5 linked regions of the Homo sapiens genome follow. The protein of the gene in region 5 purifies or fractionates together with the protein of the main gene of each other region. This does not show direct contact. Each region holds a gene or a part of one and is shown on either strand. Other genes may lie near its edges. The genes, in order: PRKAR2B, CAMK2B, APAF1, PAWR and GOLGA6L2.

Evidence for each region.
Region 1: the proteins of GOLGA6L2 (region 5) and PRKAR2B purify together in Homo sapiens (affinity purification with mass spectrometry; one large-scale study listed by BioGRID and IntAct). This does not show direct contact.
Region 2: the proteins of GOLGA6L2 (region 5) and CAMK2B purify together in Homo sapiens (affinity purification with mass spectrometry; one large-scale study listed by BioGRID and IntAct). This does not show direct contact.
Region 3: the proteins of GOLGA6L2 (region 5) and APAF1 purify together in Homo sapiens (affinity purification with mass spectrometry; one large-scale study listed by BioGRID and IntAct). This does not show direct contact.
Region 4: the proteins of GOLGA6L2 (region 5) and PAWR purify together in Homo sapiens (affinity purification with mass spectrometry; one large-scale study listed by BioGRID and IntAct). This does not show direct contact.

The regions. Positions count from the first base shown.
Region 1 is NC_000007.14:107,156,045-107,160,018, forward strand, and holds part of PRKAR2B (cAMP-dependent protein kinase type II-beta regulatory subunit), read left to right. Parts: intron 1-939; coding exon 940-1,005; intron 1,006-1,141; coding exon 1,142-1,280; intron 1,281-3,404; coding exon 3,405-3,538; 3' UTR 3,539-3,974. UniProt on the Homo sapiens protein: Regulatory subunit of the cAMP-dependent protein kinases involved in cAMP signaling in cells. Type II regulatory chains mediate membrane association by binding to anchoring proteins, including the MAP2 kinase.
Region 2 is NC_000007.14:44,315,286-44,319,259, reverse strand, and holds part of CAMK2B (calcium/calmodulin-dependent protein kinase type II subunit beta), read left to right. Parts: intron 1-3,974. UniProt on the Homo sapiens protein: Calcium/calmodulin-dependent protein kinase that functions autonomously after Ca(2+)/calmodulin-binding and autophosphorylation, and is involved in dendritic spine and synapse formation, neuronal plasticity and regulation of sarcoplasmic reticulum Ca(2+) transport in skeletal muscle.
Region 3 is NC_000012.12:98,662,239-98,666,212, forward strand, and holds part of APAF1 (apoptotic protease-activating factor 1), read left to right. Parts: intron 1-217; coding exon 218-330; intron 331-436; coding exon 437-568; intron 569-2,812; coding exon of another isoform or gene 2,813-2,841; exon of another isoform or gene 2,842-3,120; intron 3,121-3,314; coding exon 3,315-3,553; intron 3,554-3,951; coding exon 3,952-3,974. UniProt on the Homo sapiens protein: Oligomeric Apaf-1 mediates the cytochrome c-dependent autocatalytic activation of pro-caspase-9 (Apaf-3), leading to the activation of caspase-3 and apoptosis. This activation requires ATP. Isoform 6 is less effective in inducing apoptosis.
Region 4 is NC_000012.12:79,587,062-79,590,328, reverse strand, and holds part of PAWR (PRKC apoptosis WT1 regulator protein), read left to right. Parts: 3' UTR 1-3,267. UniProt on the Homo sapiens protein: Pro-apoptotic protein capable of selectively inducing apoptosis in cancer cells, sensitizing the cells to diverse apoptotic stimuli and causing regression of tumors in animal models.
Region 5 is NC_000015.10:23,441,111-23,444,437, forward strand, and holds part of GOLGA6L2 (golgin subfamily A member 6-like protein 2), read right to left. Parts: intron 3,103-3,327; coding exon 3,052-3,102; intron 2,964-3,051; coding exon 2,667-2,963; intron 1,399-2,666; coding exon 1,340-1,398; intron 1,011-1,339; coding exon 869-1,010; intron 573-868; coding exon 1-572.

The sequences.
Region 1 (3,974 bases), on a different chromosome or scaffold from region 5:
AGTTGAACAATAAGAACACATGGACACAGGGAGGGGAACATCACACACCGGGGCCTGTCAGGGGGTGGGGAGTGAAGGTAGGGAGAGTATTAGGACAGATACCTAATGCATGCGGGGCTTAAAACCAGACAGGTTGATAGGTATAGCAAACCTCCATGGCACATGTATACCTGTGTAACAAACCTGCATGTTCTCCACATGTATCCCTGATTTAAAGTAAAATTTTAAAAAAAGGAAAAAAAAATTAGCTGGGTGTGGTAGCACATGCCTGTAATCCCAGCTACTTGGGAGGGTGAGGTGGGAGAGTCGCCTGAATCCAGGAGGTGGAGGCTGCAGTGAGCTGAGATTGCACCACTGCACTCCAGCCTGGGTGACAGAGCGAGACTCCATCTTGGGGGGGAAAAAGAAAGTATTATTTCAAATAATTTTACAAATGAAATCATTACTACATAATTGTCCATCAAAACCTCTTCATTTAGGGCCGGGCTCGGTGGCTCACGCCTGTAATCCCAGCACTTTGGGAGGCCGACGCAGGCAGATCTCGAGGTCAGGAGATCAAGACCATCCTGGCTAACACGTTGAAACCCCGTCTCTACTAAAAATACAAATAAATTAGCCGGGCGTGGTGGCAGACGCCTGTAGTCCCAGCCACCCAGGAGGCTGAGGCAGGAGAATGGTGTGAACCCGGGAGGTGGAGCTTGTAGTGAGCCGAGATCGCGCCACTGCATTCCAGTCTGGGCAACAGAGTGAGACTCCGTCTCAAAAAAAAAAAAAACCTCTTGATTTAGAAACCGAGACAGCTTGTTCCCTTAGGATTTCACTTTTCAGGTGAATATGTGTACTTTGGGGTTGGATCAATTTTAGGGATATGAAAGGTAACAAGATTGTTGTCAATTAATTTGCATTTTCACCGTCTGTTTTTGTTATTGATTCCAATAGGGAGATTCGGCTGATTCTTTTTTCATTGTAGAATCTGGAGAAGTGAAAATTACTATGAAAAGAAAGGTAAGCATTCTAAGTCCTCAGAACCCACATACTGTTAGCAAGGAACACAACAGATCTACTTTTTGATGTTTAGACTGAGGTTAATTTTATTTTTCATAAGCTGAGGAAAAGCTCATCTTTTTAATTGCCTTGTCAGGGTAAATCAGAAGTGGAAGAGAATGGTGCAGTAGAAATCGCTCGATGCTCGCGGGGACAGTACTTTGGAGAGCTTGCCCTGGTAACTAACAAACCTCGAGCAGCTTCTGCCCACGCCATTGGGACTGTCAAATGTTTAGGTAGGGATTGCAACAGTGGGCGTGCTTCTGCTGGTTGAACTTATGTCTGCATTTTATGTATTCATGTTGAGTGAATCATTTTATTGGGTTCACAGGTTTTGTGGTCCCCACAAAAGGTAACAAGATTAGGACTCATTGCCTTATAAAATCAATTTGTGGAAGCCATTTTTTCTTCGAAATTTTTACATCCAGATACATTTTGCTCTTCTTGTGTATATATGAAATAACATCCCATATTAGTCATTAAAATAAGAGTTCCAAGTACCACGTTTTATATGGAATCTCTCAAATAAGCAACATGTGCTATGTTCCTCAAAAGAGAAGGCTAAAGTACTATTTTTATAAAGTCCGTTATTAAGATCTGCGGGGAATGCTGAGATGTTGTGAGAATCCTTACTCATTACAGTATTGGGACACAAAGGTTCAGGTTTGTCAAAGCACAGTCAAATGTTCTTTGCTGTTCAGTTGTTATTACTATTTTACCAGAGTAGCTTGGCAGAAATGTCATCTTCAGGTGCAGGCATCTGTATATATCTGAGATTATATATCTGAGAAATCACTTACTTTGATAAGAAAATACAGTTTAGAAGGTGGCAATATGGAGGGTATTTTAAGAAAATTGATCTCACAGTTATTACCCTCTCTGTGCTTTTCATCCATAATTCAATAGCATAAACTTAATGTTTTTAAGATTTGCAAGGATCCTTAGAATTAACTTCTTAGAGAAGTCATTCTTTAAAAGGGTTTAAATAAGTATAATATTAATCAAGTGTTAAATTTGGATGGAAGAGAAGACGATTAGAAACTGGCAGGTAATTTCCCTAAGTAGGGCTATTAGAAAGAGTAAAGGTGAGTGAGTGAAAGTCTATTAGAAATAGTAAAGGTGAGTGAGTGAAAGTCTATTACAGTAAAGGTGAGTGAGTGAAAGTCTATTAGAAAGAGTAAAGGTGAGTGAGTGAAAGTCTGTTAATTTTTTTTCAATAATAGATTATTATACTCACATCAAAGAAAACCTGAGAAATACAGAAAATGTAGAAAAAACATAACACCGCCACTCAGTGATTTCTGCTATTATAATTCCTTCTTGTCCTTTTTATTTGTGTGGGCTTCCAGTTGTTAAACAGTTTTCCAAACAACTTTTAAAGTTCATTATCGCTTAGGAATGTTCTTATTTTATTACACCAAATTTTAAAATTCTTTTAGGTAAATATATACACGATAAATTAATCATTCCTTAGTGGTAAATACTTCGAAGGTTTTGGCTCCAACTTTTTTGTGGGGAGCAATTTTTTGTGCATAGAAGACTTTTCTGTATTATAGGAGTTTTCCTTAGAAATGGTTTTCAGGAGTGGGTTTTTAAAAAATTAACTTTTGACACATATTGCCAGATTACTTGTATTTGTACACTACTAGCAGTGCCATAATGCCCATTCACCCTATTCTTGTAAACATTGCCTTTTTTATCTTTTTATCTTTAGTGTAAAAGGCAAAGAAGATCTATTTTAATTTGTACTTTTATGTATAGAGTATGATCATATTTTCTATTTATATATTATAAATCCAGTTTTAAAATCCAGGAGACAGGCAAGCAAAGTGATTTCTAGCATGTACTTATAGAAGTAAACAAAAGCATTATGTCAGCTGCCATTTTTGGATTGCATAGACATAGTATGGCAGCAAAACTTACAAAAGGTTAACACTTGGCCTTCACAACATGGCATTTTAAACCCTGAGAAGGGAACACAGGATAGAAAACACTCTTGTGCCACCCTTGAGGAGTTCACATTGCTAAGGTGGAGACAGCACATTTATTTTTTAAAATTCTAAGGTCTTTCCATGATAGTCCCTCATTCTTTTCTCAGCTTGGACCAGGAACCTCCCACCAACTTAGCATTGCTCATCATATTGCCGAGGGACTGCAGAGTGTGGTCCAAGAGCGTGGCCCTGGCTGCTTCCTTTTTCAAGTGGAACATTTTTATCATTATGCTTTTTCTTGTATTTTATAGTATTTACCTAAAATATCATTGCACTATTGATATATATGGAGTCGGTATTGTAAATGACTTAGAAATTCTGCAGATTTGCAAAGAATGTTATTTAAAAAAAAATCTTCTCTTTTCTCAGCAATGGATGTGCAAGCATTTGAAAGGCTTCTGGGACCTTGCATGGAAATTATGAAAAGGAACATCGCTACCTATGAAGAACAGTTAGTTGCCCTGTTTGGAACGAACATGGATATTGTTGAACCCACTGCATGAAGCAAAAGTATGGAGCAAGACCTGTAGTGACAAAATTACACAGTAGTGGTTAGTCCACTGAGAATGTGTTTGTGTAGATGCCAAGCATTTTCTGTGATTTCAGGTTTTTTCCTTTTTTTACATTTACAACGTATCAATAAACAGTAGTGATTTAATAGTCAATAGGCTTTAACATCACTTTCTAAAGAGTAGTTCATAAAAAAATCAACATACTGATAAAATGACTTTGTACTCCACAAAATTATGACTGAAAGGTTTATTAAAATGATTGTAATATATAGAAAGTATCTGTGTTTAAGAAGATAATTAAAGGATGTTATCATAGGCTATATGTGTTTTACTTATTCAGACTGATAATCATATTAGTGACTATCCCCATGTAAGAGGGCACTTGGCAATTAAACATGCTACACAGCATGGCATCACTTTTTTTTAT
Region 2 (3,974 bases), on a different chromosome or scaffold from region 5:
GCCACCTCCCTCATCCAGGCAAGAGATGTGGCCTTTCTGGAGATTTTAAATATATTTTCAAAAAATTTAATTCTCTCTCTCTTCCCCCACAAAAATTGAATCTGATTTGATTATTTTTAAAGCATCTTTTACAGCTGCAAGTCACTTTGTTAGTGTAGAAACATAAAAATGCATTATGTATCAACTTGGTTTTTAAAAAATTATCATATTGGCATATTACACAGATATGTATATTTTATTCATAGAAAAACTTGAATTTATTTAAAATGAAAACATCCTTTTATGTTAGAGAAAGGTGGTGTTGCTAGCTGCCAAACTTTTGGGTGGCTTTTGTCTCCTGGGTTAGAGGGTCACTTGTTGAGGGCTCAGTTCCTGGTGGACATAGTTCTTTTTGTATTGACATAATTATCCAAAAATAACTTAAGTTATGATTCTTTGTTAAGCCAGACAGAAGCTTTTGTTGAATTCTAGAACAGATTGGCAACAACCAGGCAAAGATTTAAGAAGATTTTATGGGAGGAAGCATAATGGCACACTTGTACAGGGTGGAATTTGGGACCCACAGTCCTTGTTTCCTCACTTTGTGAGCAGCAAGAGAAGCCTGGAGGGCAGGAGCTGCTGTCGCCCTTACAATGAAGTACTGCAGGTGTTATGCCTTTTGCTGTAATGCCCTCTGGGTGTCAAGCACATCCCAGTGAGTGCCGTTTCCAGCAAGGAGCTGAGGAGCCTTGATTCTGTCACCCAACACACCCTGAATTCAAGTGCTGAGAACAGTGCCTGGCACACAGTAGGTGCTCCACAGTGACTCAGCAATGGTCTGGGTCACTCAGGCCTTGCACCTGGGACTGCTTCCCAGAGCAGTGGCACACCCACCCTGTAAAAGATGAGGGCCTTATAAGAGGTATTGGGTGGCTCTGCAGGTAGGTCTTGCGGGTATTCTGATGTCCAGTCTGGGTAGACAGTCTTGTCACCCGGTGAAATGCAGTAGCAGGGCTGTCAGCACTTATATGTCTGTCATGGAGCTTGACTCCAAGAGGCTTGCAGCTTTCAGCTAATTTCTTAATGAGGTTGTTCACATGACTTCTTGTTTGTTGAGGTGCTGCCTGATTCTCAGCGTCTGTGAGTTTGATCCAGGCCATTAGTTAGGGGCTTTCTGGGCAAAGGGTAGGAGTCTGGTTAGGAGCAGGCCCTCCCAAAGAAGATGACCATGTGGTGGTTCTCAACCCCAACCACACATGGGAAGCCCCTGAGGAGTGTTCAGGCCCCATCGCATTTAGCCAGACACTAGGGAAATGGGGTATCAGCAGTTTTTAAAAGCTCCCAGGTGATTCCAATGGGCACTGCATACCTAGACTCTGCAGAGGAGTCTGCACCTGAGGCCAGACACTCGCCTAAGCCCACACTCCTTCATATAACCCTTGGTTCTTTCAGAGCCCACCTAGGCATGAATTTGAAGTTTACCTTCATTTTCTCTACATTCACAATGACATTACTACCCCACCGCCCACCCCATCCAAGTTGTCGAGAGCTGCATTGTCCAGAAGAGATAAAATGTGATACAAAGTTGAGCCATATGTGTGATTAAAAATTTTCTAGTACGTAAAGAAAAAAAAGAAACAGGTGAAAGGAACTTTAAAAATATATTTATTTAACTTTATATCCAAAATATCATTCAGAGGCCTGGTGCGGTGGCTCGTGCCTGTAATCCCAGCACTTTGGGAGGCCAAGGTGGGTGGATCACTTGAGCCCAGGAGTTAGAGACCGTGGGCAACATGGCAAAACCCCATCTGTACAAAAATTAAAAAATCATTTCAACATGTAATCAAAACAGAAATTATTAAGCTATTTTGCATTCCTTTTTGTACTACGTCTTGAAATCTGGTGTGTATTTTACCCTTACGGCACATCTCAGTTTGGACCAGGTTCTTATGACTACATGGTGACAGTGACCACAGTATTGGACAACACAGGGCCAGAGCTTCAAAATCACCATGCTTTTTTTTTTTTTTTTCATTTTTCCTGGTTTCTTTTAAGGATAATAGTTACAGTCATAGCTGTCTTAGTCTGTTCCAGATTTCTTTTGCTCTCCTGAAGACTTATTCATTTATTCAGCAAGTCTGGTTGCCTGTACTTACCATGTGCCATAGGTGCTTGGGAAACAGTAGTGAACAAAGCAGTCAAGGATGCCTGCCCTTAGGGAGCTTATATACTGCTGGATAGAGGCAGGCAATAAACATAAATACTAAAAAAATTATATGATAGGGTAGAAGGTGATTAATACCTCTGAGAATAATTAAGAAGACTCAGGAGTGCTAGTTAGGAGGAAGGTTATTATTATAAAAAGGATGGTAAAGCCAAGAAAAAAGAAGACTCCAATTGCTAAAATCAGGAATGACACAGGGGACCTTACTGCCAACCTTACAGAAAAAAAATTATAAGGAAATAACTATGAATAATTATGTGCCCTCAAGTTAGATAACCTGGATGAAATGGACAAATACTTAGAAAGACACAAACTACTGAATCTGGCTCAAGAAGAAATAGAAAATCTGAATAGACCTATAACAAGTAGAGACTGACTTAGTAATTTAAAATTTTCCCACAAAGGAAAGCTTAGGCTCAGATAATTTCACTGGTAAATCCTACCAAACATTTAAAGAAGAATTAATACCAGTCTTTTACAAGCTCCCCCAAAAAGTAGAAGAGGAGGAAATTCTTTCCAATTCATTCTGTGAAGCCAGCAATACCCTAATACCAAAACCAAAGATATCACAAAACTACAGACTGTTATCACTTATGAATGCAGATGAAGCATCCTCAACAAAACACTAGCAAAATAAATCTAGCAACATATAAAAAGGATTATTTATACATTATGAACAAGTAGGATGTATCCCAAGAATGAAAGGTTCATTCAGCATACAAAAATCAATCTATATAATACACCACGTTGATAGAACAAACATTGAAACTATATGAACCATTTCAATAGATGCAGAAAAAGCATTTAAAAAAAAACCAATACCATTTCATGATAAAAACTCAACAAATGACAAGTAGAAAGGAACTTCCTTAACTTGATAAAATACATTTGTGAAAAATCTGCAGCTAACCTCATATTTAATGGTGGAAAACTGAATGTATCTGCTCTTTCCATTTCTAGGCAGCACGGTATAGGAGATTCTAGCCAGGGCAATTAGGCAAGAAAAAGAGATAGAAGGCTCCCAGATTGGAAATAAATAGTTATAGCTACCTCTCTTTTCAGATTACATGCTTTCGTATATAGAAAATCCTAAGGAATCCATTTAAAAAACTATTAGAACTAAAAAATGAATTTAGCAAAGTTGCAAGATGTAAGACCAATATACAAAAATCCATTGTATTTCAATGGACTAGAAGTTCAAAATAACAAAATTAGGAAAAACAATTTACAATAGCATCTAAAAAATAAAACACTTAATACTAAATTTAATAAAAGAAGTACAAGACTTGTACATTGAAAACCACAAACCACTGTTGAGAGAAATTAAAGAAGACCTAAATTAATGGAAAGACATCCCATGTTCATGGATTGGAATATTTAATATTGTTAAATAGTAGTATACTCCAAATTGACCTACATTTTTGCTATGAAAATTCCAGCTGCGTTTTTTGCAAAAATTGACAACCTGGCCCTAAAATTCACATAGGAATGCAAGAGACCCAAAATAGCTAAAACAATCTTGAAAAAGGAGAACAAAGTCAGAGGACTCACGGGTTCTGATTTCAAAACTAACTACACAGTTACAGCAATCAAGACAGTGTGGTGTTGACATAAGGATAAATACATAGATCAGTGAAATAGGATTGAGAGTGTAGAATAAATCCATACATCTATGTTCAGTTGATTTTTTACAAGGGTGCCAAGACAATTCCAGTGGAGAAGAATAACGGTCCATTCAACAAATGGACAATTGAGTATCCACATGCAGAAG
Region 3 (3,974 bases), on a different chromosome or scaffold from region 5:
AGGAGAAGGCAGTCTCTAATTTTTTTTTTCCTTATTTGAATCAGCATATTGAGAAGAGTATAGCAAAGAGGAAGAATCATTTTCCTAGATCTAGCCATCTATTTGTTTTAAAAAAAATTTAATTTGGTAGATTTTAAAAGACACTGGTGGGATTATCTTTTTAAAAGGAAGCTTAAGATAAGTGTCATTAGTGATTAATATTTTTTTTTTAAATTAGGTCTCTCTTGATCTTGGATGATGTTTGGGACTCTTGGGTGTTGAAAGCTTTTGACAGTCAGTGTCAGATTCTTCTTACAACCAGAGACAAGAGTGTTACAGATTCAGTAATGGGTAAGGATTATTCGTTTACTTTTTAGTACCTTTATATTTAATTTAATTACATTTAAATATGTGACATACCAAATTACTTACTTTGTCTTGTGATTTTTGTTTGCAGGTCCTAAATATGTAGTCCCTGTGGAGAGTTCCTTAGGAAAGGAAAAAGGACTTGAAATTTTATCCCTTTTTGTTAATATGAAGAAGGCAGATTTGCCAGAACAAGCTCATAGTATTATAAAAGAATGTAAAGGTATGGTTATTTATTTGTTTATGAGGAGATTATAGGGAGTTATATAATTTCCCTTTTGTTAATTGAGCTAATGAATATGGTAATTTAGCACATGAACATCCAAAAACTTTTCTGGGAGATTTAGTATTTTAGGTTCTCTGATATCTTAAATGGATACATGATATTATGGTATTTATTTATTCATTAAAATAATATTTACCATCTACCCACAGTGTGTTAGAGACCACATTAGTGAGAGAAGTGAGACACAGATGTGACCTCTGCTGTTAGAGTTAAAAATAGAGTGAGAATCAGATTTTAAAACTTGTTTTTGCTTGGGATTTTATAAAAATAGTGTTCTAATTTGGTAAGTAAAAACTGGTGTCTTAATTTGCATTTTTTTTTAGCGAAGTTAAACTTTTTACTTGTTTATTGAATACGTTTTAAGAAGTTATCCTTGACTTTAAGAAATTATCCTTGACTCACTTTTCTTTTTTGATATAAGTATTTTTAATTTATTTCTAAATACTCAAAAAATAGAAACTATTAGCTCTTTGTCATATTTTTACAAGTATTATTTCCCAGTAAAACAATTTTTTAACTTAAAATTTATATATAGAATCTCGCTGTGTTGCCCAGGCTGGTCTTGAACTACTTGCCTCAAATGATCCTCCTGCCTTAGCCTCCTAAAGCACTGGGACTACAGGCATGAGTCACCATGTCCAGCCTGTTACCCAGTTTTTTGTGTACCTTTTATTTGTTGTATTCTTTTGACATATAGAAGCTTAAAATTTTAAACAGTCAAATCTATCAACTCTTAAAATTATTTCTTTCATTATTGTTATGCTTGGAAATACCTTATTTTTCTTCTTTTTCTTTTTTTTTCTCTTTTGAGACAAGTCTCACTCTGTCGTCCAGGCTGGAGTGCAGTGGCGTGATCTCGGCTCACTGCAACTTCTGCCTCCCAGGTTCAAGCAGTTCTTCTGCCTCAGCCTCTCGAGTATCTGGGACTACAGGCATGTTCCACCATGCCTAGCTAATTTTTGTATTTTCAGTAGAGACGGGGTTTCGCCATGTTGGTCAGGCTGGTCTCGAACTCCTGACCTCAGGTGATTGCCCGCCTCAGCCTCCCAAAGTGCTGGGATTATAGGCATGAGCTACCATACCTGGCCACCTTATTTTTCATTCTGCCATCAAATAGACACACAGTTTTGTTTGTTTATTTATTTATTTATTTATTTTATTTATTTTTTGAGACGAGTCTCACTCTGTCGCCCAGGCTGGAGTGCAGTGGTGCGACCTCTGCTCACTGCAACCTCTGCTGCCCAGGTTCAAGTGATCCTCCTGCCTCAGCCCCCTAGTAGCTGGGATTACAGGTGCGTGCTACCTCACCCAGCTAATTTTTGTAGTTTTAGTAGAGATGGGGTTTCATCATCTTGGCCAGGGTAGTCTTGAACTCCTGACCTCGTGATCCACCTGCCTCAGCCACCCAAAGTGCTGGGATTACAGGCGTGAGCCACCACACGTGGCCAGTTTTGTTAATTTTTAAAGAAATCTTACACTTAGAAAAAATGCTTAATTTGTAGTTATTACAAAGGGTGATGCATGTCCATTTTGAAAATGTGTGAAACTAAAAAAAAAATAGAAATTATCCATAACCTGATAATTATTAGCATCATGAGAGTATTGCCTCCAGTCTTTTAGAACAAAGATTTAAAAAGTTGAGATTATGTATATGTGGTTTTGGATTTTGCCCTTTTTTTTTTAAAGAGCCAGGGTCTTGCTCTGTCACCCAGGCTGGAGTGCAGTAAGATCACAGCTCACTGCAGGCTTGAATGTCTTGGCTTAAGCAATCCTCCTGCCCCAGCCTCCTGAATAGCTGGGACTGCAGATACCCACCACCACACCTGGGTAATTTTTAAATTTTTTTGTAGGGACAGGGTCTCACTATGTTGCCCAGGCAGGTCTCAAACTTCTGCCCTCAAGCAATCCTCCCACCTCAGCCTCCTGAAGTGCTAGGACTACAGACACATGTCGCCACACCCAGCTGGATCTTACCCTTTTTCTATATCTTGAGCATTTTCCCATGTTGTTAAATATTTTTTTGAAAAAAATTTACCAGTGGCATAATATTGATATATCTTAATTTATTCAACCACTTCTGTATTATTGGACATTGTTTACGTTGTTTAAGATTTTTTCACTATTCTAAGTGTGCTGTGATGAATATCCTTAAACTTAATCATTCTTTTCTTTTTCTTTAAGACAGAGTCTCACACTGTTCCTCAGGCTAGGATGCAGTGGTGCTGTCATGGCTCACCGTAGCCTCAACCTCCTGGGCTGAAGCAATCCTCCCACCTCAGCCTCCTAAGTAGCCGGCACTATAGGCACACACCACCACACCTGGCTGATTTTTCTAATTTTTATTTTTAGTAGAGACAAGGTCTCATTATATTGCTTAGACTGGCGCATATATATATATATATATATATATTTTTTTTTTTTTTTGTAATGACATCTTAGCCAGATTTGATCTATGTTATTTTGACTTAATAAAGATAATCAGGAACTTACTGAATGAAATCTTTCTTATTTCTAATTTTTTTTGGGATAAATATCTAGAAGTGAAGTCAAGAGTGATAAATACTTAAGGCTTTTGATAACATGCAGCAGAAATTGTTTCTTAGTAATGTAAGTAAGTAAGTCGATTCTTATTAGTGACAAAATAGGATGGTATTAGCATAGTGACTTCATTTTTTTTTTAAAGGCTCTCCCCTTGTAGTATCTTTAATTGGTGCACTTTTACGTGATTTTCCCAATCGCTGGGAGTACTACCTCAAACAGCTTCAGAATAAGCAGTTTAAGAGAATAAGGAAATCTTCGTCTTATGATTATGAGGCTCTAGATGAAGCCATGTCTATAAGTGTTGAAATGCTCAGAGAAGACATCAAAGATTATTACACAGATCTTTCCATCCTTCAGAAGGACGTTAAGGTGCCTACAAAGGTAATGGGATCAATGATCCTCATCATTGGGTATTTATTGCATGTAAGCTTTGATATAGTACTGAGCATGTTGTTACAGAGAACCTTGGAAGGATAAGACCCAGGGGACTGAGGTGGTGGGGTGTTGGGTGTAGAAATCCCTCTGCTGTTAGCTTCCATTAAGGGCTTTGTGTTGAACTCAGGAGTTAACCTATTTCTGTGGTTCTAGTGCAGCTGAAGAAGCATCTGACTTCTCTTTCTCTTTTCTATCTTGAGGAGTAGCTGAGTTTCTTCTTAAGAAATGGAGACATTCTTACTCAGGGCTTTAAGATACCGTTTTTTTGTGTGTGTGATAATACCTGTCTACAGTCCTGGTCATTGTACTTTTGTGGCATATTAAATACTTACAACAATTCCTAGGTGTTATGTATTCTCTGGGACAT
Region 4 (3,267 bases), on a different chromosome or scaffold from region 5:
TCAGGAGGCTGAGGCAGGAGAATCGCTTGAAAACCCAGGAGACAGAGGTTGCGGTGAGCTGAGATTGCGCCATTGTACTCCAGCCTGGGCAAGAAGAGCGAAACTCTGTCTCCAAAAAAAAAAAAAAAAAAATTATTAATACTTTTAAAGACTGAGCTGTTTAAGAATTTTTTGGGGAACATTTCTAGCAGTGATTTTTTTGGCCTTTAATGATAGCGTAAAGACAGGAGCCTTACAACTTAGGCAAAGCATTTCACATGCAGTCCTTCTTCCATCTCAAAATATGTACTTATTTTACATACAGAATTTTACACTAACCATTGAAAAATAAAGTAGGATCTGCTACAGTTTCACCTGAAAATTTATAAAAAGTGTTGAGATTGGTAGAAGGTAGTTTTTAAGTACATGTGCACTACCCTAAAAGACTTGTCTATTGTCAATAAAGTGTTAGTATTTGTGAAATTATTATTCCTGTTCAGAAATACTATTTCTTAAATCTCCTGGGAATTTGTGGCATAATAAAGCACATTCAAAGTTCTAATGTATTTATGAGCTCATTTTCAAAATAGTAAGTTTGTCATCTTTAAAATGAACATGACTTGCCTCCTTGATTTCTGAAATGAATTAATTGAAGATTGCTATAGTAATCTTTATTTCATCTTTCTAGAGTTGTTGACAATTTTATTATACAACAGTTACCATTAGAGAAGGAGGGAAGGGCTTTTGGGTGTGTATTTATAGGTACTAAGGGATTTACTAAATATAGTAGATTAGCACTGTCACACTTGTTCAAGTAGTTTCAAACATAGAAAATTAAGTATCAGGTATGTGGAGCAATGTAGTTTTTTTTTTTCTTCAGTTTAAAAAATTTTTAATTGTGGTAGAAGCAATGTATTCTTAAGGTGAAAAACCTACCTCGGTTACATGTGGTTTGTGTTTTTTGGATTAATCTGGATTTTATAATTAGAAATAAAAATGTAAGATTTTGAATCCACTTAATTTCTTGAAAATAGTACAAGTCAGTGTAATAGAGAAGCATTCATATATTCAACACTGTAAGACAAAACAGCAGAGACCTTGGATTTGATAATTGATCTGATATCCTGGACAGTATTCATATGTACAGTGATAGGTATCTTTCTTTGGAGTTTTTTTTTTGTGCATATGTGTATAGTTTTATGGGTTCTGAGTTGGTGACCAGTAAGTTGCATGTAGTGCTGGCACTTACTTAATAACTATTCATGATATTGTTAATAACTTGTTATAGGATTGTATTCCCAATTACAGTCTCTAAGATTGTAATTGATATTATCTGAGAGGTAGTGTGACAACTTTCTTTTGTTGTTACATTAAGCCGAAAACATAATACTAATAGACAACTAACAGTTTGCTTATCAGGCACATCAACTAAGGCACCTCCCCCCATGCTAAGTTTCTCCTGGATATATGGAAGTTGATTGTTTCCCAGTTTAAAAACTTGAACTAATATCTCCTAAGAAAATCTGAGTCCATATTGTTTTTATTTTACTTAGCTAGAATCTCATAGCATGTTAAAGTCATATCCTTATCCCCACTAAAAATAACTATGTCTATGTGAGAGGAATATAGTATGTGGGAGCTGTATTAAATACTATTACAGGTGTTACAGAATCTTTAAATAAATGGACATGGACCAACTTTCCATCTAGTAGTGTACGATCTATATAGTGCATGTCAGTAGCACAAAATGCAGTCTTAGCATTAGCCTGTCTAATCTGAATAGTTTACTCAAAAGTACTTCTTTGTGTTAAGTATTCAGCCACTGTTTTTAGATCTAGTTAATAGGTTCTATTTAATTTGCTACAACATTTACTGAATGGTGGAGTGAAAAAACTGATGCATACTGGGAAATATCTACCATTTTTTAAAGATAATGTTAATTAGGAAAAGAACACTTTTAAGGAATTTATAGCAGTGATGAAATGAATTCAGTTATATCAGATACACCAAACTGTTGATGGTATTTAAATGTGACTTCAAGTTAGTATTTCTGTATATATTATTGATTACTGGTTTGTTTTTAGATATGTAAGTCTGTTCTAATCTACAGTTCACATATCGACAGTTACTCTGGTAATAATAGAATGTTAGTGATGATCACTTGGTGGATGTTGATTAAGTGCCTGTGTTTTGTTTCCTCCTCTGGATACCAAATAGGTGTATGCTACTTTTTTGGTGAACTTATTTCTTGGAAGATTTGGCTATGCTATTCAGGGTTTTTATTCTTATGTTTTTCTTCTAAATTTAAGTAGCATCCTGCTGCTACCATATTAAAGCTAAAATTTAACTTTTGCTGAAGAATCAGCTAATTCAGGTAATCCAAATATTTGTGGAAAAACATCTGGATAATTTATTGAACACATTAGTATTGTGTTAGACAGCTTTGATCATTCCCATTTCATAGGTTTTTATTGTGGAATAGTCAACTTAATATAGATTCACTTTCAATTTGCATGTATAAAGTAATACTCAATAAAATTTTTTTCATTTATTTTTCAACAGTGGTTATTTTTTTTCTTCCTGTACTATCAGTAAAATCCTGACTATGAGTTTTACTTTTGAAGCTAAAGGATAATGCTGGTAATCTAATTATGTACCTCTTACAGAAACCATATGCAGCACTTTAAAAATCTTTATTTGGTATATTATTTTAGGTGGACAATGATTTAAGACTCAAAGCCATCATATTAAGGTCTAAATACATTAGTGGTGGGGTTTCTCGAATAAATGAGGAAGTGCACAAAAGTTCAGCCTGACTGAAAATTTTAATTGTGTTTTAAAACTACATGAATAATTTCTTGATTCAAAATCAGAACTCTTATAAACTAAATCTGATGGTGTCCAAAGAATTTCAGGTCCTTCAAAGTTTGTAAAAGATAAGTAGGGGCCTAGGAATATAAAAATTTAGACTTTTTTAGTAAATGGTTTACATAACCTTTTGTCTTAATTTGTCATTCTTCATACACAGGCACAAGCTAATCAGTCTTCTCTACTTCTAGAACTCTAAATCTTCTCAGTAATGTCATACAAGTCTAACAAGAGGAAAAGCATCCTTAAGTCAGTCTATTTAGATAAACTCTTCAAGTCCCTATATAAGGACGTATTCCACTAGCAAGCCAGTAAATTTTTCCAAGGTCACATAATCTTACATGAAATGGAACCTTTCATCTTAGACTTCATCAAACTCAATTTTTTCCCTTCTAGATTCACTTTGTGTTTATGCATGCA
Region 5 (3,327 bases):
CGCTCCCGTATCCTCTCCTCCTCTTGCATCTTCTCCTCCTGGTCCCGCGTCTTCTTCTCCTGCTCCTGCATCTTCTTCTCCTCCCGCATCTTCTCCACCTGCTCCCACATCTTCTCCTGCTCCCGCATCCTCTCCTCCTTCTCCCGTAGCCTCTCGTCCTGCTCCCACATCCTCTCCTCTTGGTCCCGCATCTTCTGCTCCTGCTCCCGCATCTGCTTCTCCTGCTCCCACAGCCTCTCCTCCTGTCTCCACATCTTCTCTTCCTGCTCCCGCATCTTCTCCTCCTGCTCCCACATCTTCTCCTCCTGCTCCTGCATCTGCTCCTCCTGCTCCCGCAGCTTCTTCTGCTCCCGCAGCTCCTTCTCCTGCTCCCGCAGCTCCTTCTCCTGCTCTCGCAGCCTCTTCTCCTGTCTCCGCATCTTCTCCTCCTGCTCCCGCATCTTCCCCTCCTGCTCCCGCAGTCTCTCCTCCTGTCTCCACATCTTCTCCTCCTGCTTCCGTATCTTCTTTTCCTGCTCCCGTAGCTCCTCCTCCTGCCTCCACATCTCCTCCTGCAAAGTGTTGGTTTGAACCTCAAAAGGAAATAGACTTATGAACTAGCTATATAAATGTAATCTATAAAATAACAGTTTTCATCTATGATTCTTTAAAAAAAATTTTTAAGCCTTAACACTGAGGTTCTGATTTCCCAGGCAGGGCCCCAAATTTGTAGATTTTTAGCACACTCTAGAGGATTCTATGGTGGGACCAGAACAAGGACCCAAATTTTCCAGCTCTTGGCTGGACCCTCCCCATACCTTGCATGATCCCTAGACCATGGTCCTAGCTGGATGGGTCTCCCACAACCCCTGGGGCTGCAGCCGCTCACCTGTGGCAGCAGGAACTTGGCCCTCTCCAGTTTCCTTTTTAGCTCCTTCACGTTGAGCTGGATCTCAGACTTTTCAGATTCTGCAAGTCGAAGTTTTTCTTGTAGTTCGGCATTTTTCTTCTTCAGCTCCTCATTGGTTATGCTATGGCCCGAGGCAGTAGAGAAAGGAATGAACGAAGAACAGAAAGGACTGCTTTGGTGATCAACCCTCTACTCTCGCCCCACAAGCACAGAACCGTGGCACTGGAAGGGACCCCAGGAATTAAAAGTCCCAGGTGGCAGGCCAGAGAGAAGACATGAGTTGCCTGAGGCTACCCCATGAGTCAGTGGCACAGCCGGCACTAGAGCTTCCCTGTGCACACATGTAAACCTGTATGACCCCCTACCATGCTCACCTGTACCCCCCACCTCCCAGCACACCACCCACGCTAAGGGCCCCCAGACCTCCCATCCCACCTTCCCCCATCCTACGTGTTCCTGTACAGTTCCAGACTCAGGGCGTCCCTCTCCTTTGTTAACTCCTCGATGTACTGCAAATAGAGAAAGGTTAAGTCAGGACAGAGCAGGCAGAAGAGCAGCTGGCCGACCAGGAACAACAGCTACACTGATACTCCACAGTAACACTCCCTCACTCTCCATCACACCCGACATGTTCTCAAGGCAATTCCAAGCCCATGGTCTCATTTTTTTTTCTTTTTTTTTTTCTCCTTTTCTTCTTTTAGAGATGGAGTTTTGCTCTTGTTGCCCAGGCTGGAGTGCAATGGCGCAATCTCGCCCCATGACAACCTCTGCCTCCCGGGTTCAAGCAATTCTGCCTCAGCCTCCTAAGTAGCTGGGATTACAGGCATGCGCTACCACACCTGGCTCTCACTTGTTTTTCAGAGAACTCAGTAAGGGTAGAAGGGACAGGGAAAGAGACTGAATTGATAGCTGGCTAACAGGGGCCCAGAGAGATCAGATAATATTGCTATTGCTATTACTGTTATTACTGCCACTGTTGGAACCTTTCTTGAGTGCTTCACCAGGCACTATGCTAACAATCCCATTTAATCCTCACAACCTCCATAGGAGACGGTTACCATTATTACCTCTATTGTATAGATGCAAAACATGGGGTATTAAAAGTTAAATGGTTGCCTAAGATCACTTTGACAGAGCTGGGATTTCAACACCCAGGTGTATCTGATTCTCTAAGCCCATTCTTTCCCTGGGGGTAGGGGCACAGATAAGAAGGAGGAAATTAATCCTTTGTTGACTTTTTGAAAGAACGATACATTGGCATAGTCCAAAACTCAGAAGGTAGAGAAGGGAAATATCTACCCCACACACACTGTTCCTGTCTCCTGAGTTTTTTATGAATCCTTACAAATATGTTTTTATGTATGTTACCATAATACGTACACACACACACACACACACACACGCACATGCACACTTATGTGTGTTCCCTCTCTCTACACAAATGGTAACATACTAAAGATACTCTTCTGTACCTTCATGGTACAAATACCTTAACCCCTGCCTAGGACTTGGTCAAGGCCACAGCCAAGTATGGGCAGGGCAGGCTCTTGGCCTTGGAGCTCTGTGTCCAGTGCTCGCTCCCCACAGTGCCCCCCAACTCACCCACAGCAGCTGACTCAGCCCCAACCTGCCTCTAATAACCACACACAAAAGCAGCAAGAAATGACCCATACTATCTTCTGGGCAGGACACTGCATCCTGCAGGAGGGACCTTTAGGCTCATTCCTCCATCTGCGAAGCTGGGATCCCAGGAGACTGGGGAGGTGATTGGACTTACCCTGTCTGCCTTCTTGTGCCATGTGGACACAGCAGAGAGAGCCCGCTGTAACTCTCCTGCAAAGTGCCAGGAATGATGCAAGCGGCCGGCGAGATCCTTGGACTCTCCTGGAATGAGAGAGGTTGAGACACAGCCCAAAGGACTCCCCCTAAAGGCCTGTGAAAGTGCCAGGTTGAAGGATGATGGGGTGCCCAGGTTCCCATCTTCAAATTTCCTGGCAGCATCCTGGCTGTAATAGAGCGCTGTCTCCAGTTCAGTTTTCTGACACGTGAGAATTCGTATTGTATGATCCTGGGCCTTTGGGAGAAAAGACAAGCAAGTGCTGAAAGAGAAGCAAAAAAACCTTCTCCAGAGGACAGGAGGGAACTTCACACCCTCCACTCACCTCTATCTCCCGCCTTAGGGCTTCCTGATGTTGGTGGCTTGCCTTCTTTTCCTATAGAAAGAGGAAGACAGAGCTCTTACTAGGGGGAGGCAGAGATCCACAGCAAGAGACATGCCCCCAGAATGGCACCAATGCCCCAGGACAGGCGCACCCATGGGACCAGGTTATCAGGGACCCTGTGGGGATGGGGTGGAATCTTGGCGGTGAGCCTTCTTCCCCAAGCTGGGAGTAGGCGAGATGAGACGGGCCTCTACATCTGAGTGCCCTCCAAACCCA